Homo sapiens: one gene and its partner. The protein of the gene in region 1 purifies or fractionates together with the protein of each later gene. This does not show direct contact. Each region holds a gene or a part of one and is shown on either strand. Other genes may lie near its edges.

Region 1 (3,500 bases):
GCCTGGTCTACATAGCGAAACCCTGTCTCTACTAAAAATACAAAAGAATTAGCCGGGCGTGGTGGCGCGTGCCTGTAATCCCAGCTACTTCGGAGGCTGAGGCAGGAGAATCGCTTGAACCCGGGAGGTGGATGGAGGCTGCAGTGAGCCAAGATCGTGCCACTGCACTCCAGCCTGGGTGACAGAGTGAGACTCTAACTTGAAATAATAATAATAATAATAATAATAATAATAATAGGCTGGGCATGGTAACTTACGCCTGTAATCACAGCACTTTGGGAGGCTGAGGTGGGTGGATCACCTGAGGTCAGGAGTTCGAGACCAGCCTGGCCAACATGGTAAAACCCCGTCTGTACTACAAGTACAAAAATTAGTTGGGCATGGTGGCGTGCACCTGTAATCCCACCTACTTGGGAGGCTGAGGCAGAAGAATCGCTTGAGCCCGGGAGGTGCAGTGAGCCGACATTGTACTGCTGCACTCCAGCCTGCCTGGGTGACAGAGCGAGACTCCATTGCAAAAATAATAATAATAAGGAATGGCAGGCAGTGCTAACAAATACAGTAATATTGTGGTATTGTGGGTAATGAAAAAATACAATAGCACAATGAGTCATGTTAAAAATACTGTAGTATCAGAGGTAATGATGAATATAGTATGGTATAGAATGGAATATTTTTACATGCTACAATAGGATTAATTTTTGAAATACTATAGCATAGCATGGTGGGTAATAAAAATACCCGCCATGGTGGGGAACGTTAAAAATACGCTAGTATGATGGATTATAATAAAAATACTGTAGGCCAGGCGCGGAGGCTCTCTCCTGTAATCTCGGCACTTACGGCGGCTAAGGAGGGAAGATTATTTGAGGCCAGGAGTTCAAGACCATCCTGGGCAACATAGCAAGATCCAGTCTCTACAAAAAAAAAAAAAATTGCCGGGCGTAGTGGCTCACACCTGTAGTCCCAGCTACGTGGGAGGCTCAAGCAGAAGGATCGCTGGATTTCGGGAGTTCGAGGCTGCAGTGGGCTATGATCACGCCACAGTATCCCAGCCTGGGCAACAGAGCAAGACTTGGTCTCTTTAACAAAAAACAAAAAACTGTTGTGTTTGGCAATATTATGATAGTAAAATATATTGTGTAATATAAAATATCCTATAGTGGGTAATATAAAATACTATAATATAGTGGGTAATGTTTAAAAGGCAATACTACATATGGTGGGTAAAAAACACTAGAACTGGGTGGATAGTGCAGAAAACACAAACTCTGCAGGGCCAACATAAGGAACTGCATATGATGGTAAATGCTGGTAATAGCACAGGCTGTGGGATGTAGTGTCATACAGTGGGCAATCCTAAAAAAGAGAGGCTCAGGCCAGGCGCAGTGGCTCACACCTGTAATCCCAGCACCTTGGGAGGCCAAGGCAGGTGGATCATTACCTAAGGTCAGGAGTTCGAGACCAGCCTGGCCAATGTGGGGAAACTCCATATCTACTAAAAATACAAAAATTAGCTGGGCTTGGTGGCACATGCCTGTAATCCCAGCTACTCGGGAGGCTGAAGCAGGAGAATCACTTGAACCTGGGAGGCAGAGGTTGCAGTGGGCCGAGATCACGCCATTGCACTCCAGCCTGGGCAATAATAGCAAAACTCCGTCTCAAAAAATAAAAATCTAAATTTAAAAAAAAAAAAAAAGAGGCTCTATTGGGTCACGGCGTACAGAGGACACAACACCCTGGCCAACTGCCAAACAACAAGATGGAAAGAACCTGGGTGGCTGAACAGTGCCCTGGAGCCTCCCACCCTCTCCCCATCTCACCTCTGCAGATTTGCAAGAGCAATAACACAGGTTTTGTAAAGTCCCAGTACCGCAGGCATCTTTGTCACAGCAACTCCGCAGGCGGGGCTCCATCATCCATGTCTGCGGGTGACCCCCACCCCCCAGCATCGTGACAAACACCAGAGTGGCTCAGACATGCCTGCTGAATTGCATTCTGCTACACCAATTTGACAATAAACGTAAAAATGCTAATTATAAAAAGAAACCCACAGGCTCTGGCTGATCACAGAGTACAGTGAATCATGCCAAGAACAGAAACACAGTCACCCAAGCTCCTCTGGATTCAAGTCCAGCTCCCAATCACATGACCTTGGCCACATAACCTTCCCTCCCTGAGCCTTGGTTTTCTCATCCGTAAAATGGGGATAGGAAGAGCCCCTACCCCAGAGGGTGGGGAGAGGATTCACTAAGGGACTCCGTGTAAGGCACTGAGGCCGGCACCCATCTCACAGAAAAGATGGGCAGTGCGTGTTGCCCATGAGGATGTGTGTGCCGTGGCCCTGAGAGACCTTTCTGCCACGGCTTGTAGCTGCTTCAAGGCCTGGGCTGTTTCCCCAACTCTAAGCCAGTGGCCACAGGGCGCTGGACAATTGCAATTGATGCTGAGCAGAAGATGGATCAGAGAAGGGGCGGACCTCCCTCAGAAAAGGGGTCCAGGGTGGCTGAGGCAAAATGATGAGACGTTCAAAAGCGCTGTAGGCCCTTGCTGCTCAGAGGGTGGGCCCCGCACCTGTGGCCCTTCACTGCCTCACCTGAGAGCTTTAGAAAGGACCCCTAGGCCCGCCCCAGAGGTGTTGAGTGAGACTGCAGGCCAGCGCGGCTCCCCCGGGGCAGGAGTGCAGAGGGGTGTGCGGAACTCTGCTCTAGGTGGCACGCTCTCTTGCCTCATCACCACAGAGGGCAGCAGGGCTGAGCTACTCGAACAGTAAGAACCGCCACCCTCGCCACCACCTGCAAGGCTCTGCTGGAAGCCAGGCGTGTGCCTGCAGCTGCTCAATCCTCATGAACCCCATGATGGAAGAATGGCTCAAACCACACCCCGAGAAACACATCGGATTATTATCCCGGGCAAGCCCAGGACAACCCTTTGGCTCAGAGACAGAAGGCACCTGCCAGAGGTCATACAGCACAGGTGACAGAGCTGGGTTCTGTACCCGGAGCGTCTGTGGGGGACAGGCATGCTTTGACCTCTCCGTGGGCTGGAGAGAAACAGAGGCCAGAGCTGGAGTGGGCAGGAGGGGCTGCTCCCCTCCCCCTCAGCCCGCTGCTGTGGGCGGTTGGCTGGCCAGGCACAGAGCCAGCCTGTCCTGTCCACTGCCTGCCATCTGTCCCTCCATCTGGCTCTCCGGTGGGTGACGGTAAAGGGGCAGGCAGCACCCGACTCACCTTTGTCCACTACCTCAATGTGGATCTTCTTGACGACGCTGGTGTTGTGCTCGTAGTTTTCGAAGAAGAGCAGGCGGTAGACGTGGCACTCGTAGTCGCCCGAGTGGTTGTAGGTGACATTGGTGATGAAGATAGACAGATCCTGCAGGTCTTTGGTGCCCCGGCTGCCATTCCACACCACGCGGCCCTCGAAGCGCTCATCCTCCTCCAGCTGCAACACCTCATTCTCATAGCGCAGGATCTAGGGGTAGCCAGGGAGGGGAAGGTGTC
Region 2 (3,500 bases), on another chromosome or scaffold:
CCTCCCTTGTTTAAGACTTTAAACAGATTTATATTACTCTTAGATGAAGCCCAAGCCCCTTAGCATAGAAAACTTTGTCATTTATGATGTGGCTTACTATGTCTCATCTCTTAAAAGTCTCCTCCATTTTCCTCTAAAGACAAATCACACTGATTTCAGTTTCTGCAATTTCTTACACATTCTAAACTCCTCACCATAGGGCCTTTGTACATGCTGCCCTCACATTCACATACACCCTCACATACACCCTCACATACACCCTCAAGCCAACCCACACATCCCATCCCTCCCATTTCCCATCCTGGCTTTCTCCTCGTCATAATTTTTGCACTCAATATTACTTCTTCTAGGATACATATAAACTATTCAGTGTGGCTTTTATACAAATAATCTATATAAGTTGTACACTGCTTTTTCATTTTGTCCCCAAACCACCAAAACATTGGTAGATGGTCCATTTATAAGGAAGATGATGATAACATCTTGTTCATTTTGAGATAGGAAGAGATTATTTGCACTTTGAAATCACCTTTTTATTTTTCTACAAAAATATTTAATAGGCTAACTGCACAAAATTCAGTTGAATATGAATGGATATAGATGCCAGATGCCTATACTGGGGAAAAATATGTTAGAGAGATCCTACTTTATTTCCCATTGTTTATTAGCTGTGTGACATTGGGCAATTTATAACAACAAGACAACAAAAAAACACCTCTGAGCTTCAATTTTCTAAATTCCTTATACATTATAGAGTCCTGTTAATTAAACCTTCATTATAATAGATACTGACAGGGATAGGTATTTCTGTCCATCTTAGAACTACAGGATCTTCTGTGAAAAAAAAAATTCAGAGCAAAAAACATTTTCATTATTAACATATAAACAAGTCTTCTATAAAATAAACTTTTTCAAACAGATTTTGCAATTGGATTTCTAGTTTCAGCACTGACCTGCTGCTATTGACAAGCCACTCTGTCCCTTTACTCCATGAAAACTTTGGTTTCGGTGCAGCTTTAGGTTTGCATTCAATTATCACCCTTCCACCTTTAGCAGCCAGGATCTTTTTCTTCATAGGATTCATTTCAAAAGTTGGAGCCAACGCTAAAAAGAAAACAAATTGTTATCTTTCTCTTTCTGTTTGTAAAGCCTAAACATTGCTTCTGTGTTGTAGAATCTTTTATTCTCCTTAATAGTTAATGGAAAGGATTAATCTCGGTAAATATGATCAGCTGTCACCAATAGGCATTCTATACCTAATGCTTTGTAACTTTTATTTAATAACTTTGACTTATAAAATTCACCCAATTCAAATGTACAATTCTTGATGATAACTGAATTGATTATTAGAAACTTTAATTAGAATCCAGGCATGGGTGGCTCACACCTATAATCCCAGCAGTTTCAGAGGCTGAGGTGGGCAGATGGCTTACCCAGGAGTTTGAGAGCAGACTGGGTAACACGGCAAAACTCCATCTCTACCTAAAATACAAAAAAATTAGCTGGGCATGTTGGTGCATGCCTGTAGTCCCAGCTATCCAGGAGGCTGAGGTGGAGGATCACCTGAACCTAGAAGGTCAAGGCTGCAGTGAAGCGTGATCGCCTCACTGCACTCCAGGCTGGGCAACACCGTGAGACCCTGTCTCAATAAATAAATAACTTCAATTTCAATCAAATGTTTTATACACATTTACCTTAAAATTAACTCTGAATTCTGTTGCTTTGACTCAATTCCACAAGGAAAGTAAAGTGAAAGGCTGGAAAAAATTGACCAGCATTATACACACTGACATATGGTCCTAGTCAATCCTCTAAACCACATGTTGAATGAACTATTCCCAGTTTATAAATGAGAAAATTGAAATCTATTAGGATTATTTAATTTGGCAAAGGTACCACAGGTAGTAATAAGTGGGAGTCACATTTGAATCTAGGTCCTTCTGTTTCCAAAGCATGTACTTTTCATTAAACAATGCAGTCTCTCCTTCTTTATACAATTACTGAGCATCATCTGTATGCAAACACCCTGCAAAATGCCAAAATAATTGGAGTCCTGCTTTCAGGATCTATCTATAAACAGCTATGGGAATAATGGATCTAATCAACTAATTAAGGAGACATGATCATTTGTAGTTCATCATTACCTCCAAGTACAGAGCAATAATTATTAGAACAGAATACAGAGGCTTAAAAAAGGTTACTTCATTGATGTCATGCTCAGACTTTCCTCAGCATCCACACATTTAATCCACTGCTCACTCTCCTCTTCCCTTGGCAGACTCCAAGCAGATTTCATCCATATATTTCAACACATTACAATCATCCGTAACTATGTACTTTCTGGAGGCTTTTCTAGGCCTAAGCATATCTTCATCTGGGTTTTGACTCTTCATCCTCTGGTCTGGTCATTCTCAAAATTATCTTTGTATTAAAATCATCTGGGTATCTTTTTAAAGTGTCCATTCAGTAGGTCTGGGGTGAGCCTGGGATTCTGCACTTCTAATGTGCTCCTAGGTATGGCCACTGCTGCTGATGCTCTGAAGAAGACTTTTGTTGTGGCAAAGATTCATTCTATTCCATTGTTTCGTTAGTCTGAATTATGATAATTAGCAATAAATAAATCAGTAAACAACCAACATATGTTGTACACCTAACACAATACTGGGTATTTTGTGTAGGCTCAATAAACATTTTGTGTGATATGACATATTGCTTTAACAATGTTTAACAGAAATTAGAAATGATACTGACCCAAGATCTTCAACTCAGCATTTGCATAAATGGCTCCATATGTGTTTTCAGCTATGCACTGATACATTCCGGCATTTTCAAAAGTCACATCATACAGTCTTAATTCCCCTTTATGATACTGAAAAGAATAAAATTGAAACATATTCTCAATGAACTTTAATAGAAATACTTTCACTTAGGTCTGGGTTTGGTTGTCTTTTCATTTAGATACATTATGTTCATCTGCCCCCACTGTTACCTAAGATGAACTGAGTGGGATTTTCATGGCATGGGAAAGGAAAACCCACTTACCATGCCCAAAGGCTCTTGTTCTATTCATCCTACAGAGCTGAGAGTCCACCTTTTCCCCTCTTGGACCAGCTGGGAGATTACAGTGGGAAGGTAGAGAAGAATCCCACTGCTGCTACTTGTCCCCAGGGCCAAAGGTAGGACTTAGAGCTTCACTCTTACCTCTGTCTCTGTGGGGTACAGGAAAATAGTGGCAAGAAAAAGAGGACAATATCAGGTATTGGAGATGGATGAGTAGGAAGAGGGTGGAAAAGTGGAACAAAGGAAAAAAATAAGGAGAGAGAGAGAGAGAAGGTAGAGTAAGATTACAGAAAGTTGTTTAAACTGAAAGAAGATACTTTATGTTCAGTTTTTGTCTTTTTTAGGAAGCTTTTATATTTCAGGGCCCAAGTGCCCTTTCTGTATTGTCTCTCCTGCTAAATTTATCCCAGGACTACCCTGAAACACTGCTTGAACAGGGA

What was found.
Region 2: the proteins of SCN1B (region 1) and CNTN1 purify together in Homo sapiens (affinity purification with western blotting, with the first as the bait; one study listed by BioGRID). This does not show direct contact.

What each region holds. Positions count from the first base shown.
Region 1 is NC_000019.10:35,033,470-35,036,969, reverse strand, and holds part of SCN1B (sodium channel regulatory subunit beta-1 isoform a precursor), read right to left. Parts: intron 3,472-3,500; coding exon 3,231-3,471; coding exon of another isoform or gene 2,872-3,230; exon of another isoform or gene 1-2,871. UniProt on the Homo sapiens protein: Regulatory subunit of multiple voltage-gated sodium (Nav) channels directly mediating the depolarization of excitable membranes.
Region 2 is NC_000012.12:40,936,939-40,940,438, reverse strand, and holds part of CNTN1 (contactin-1 isoform 1 precursor), read right to left. Parts: intron 2,870-3,500; coding exon 2,752-2,869; intron 1,105-2,751; coding exon 954-1,104; intron 1-953. UniProt on the Homo sapiens protein: Contactins mediate cell surface interactions during nervous system development.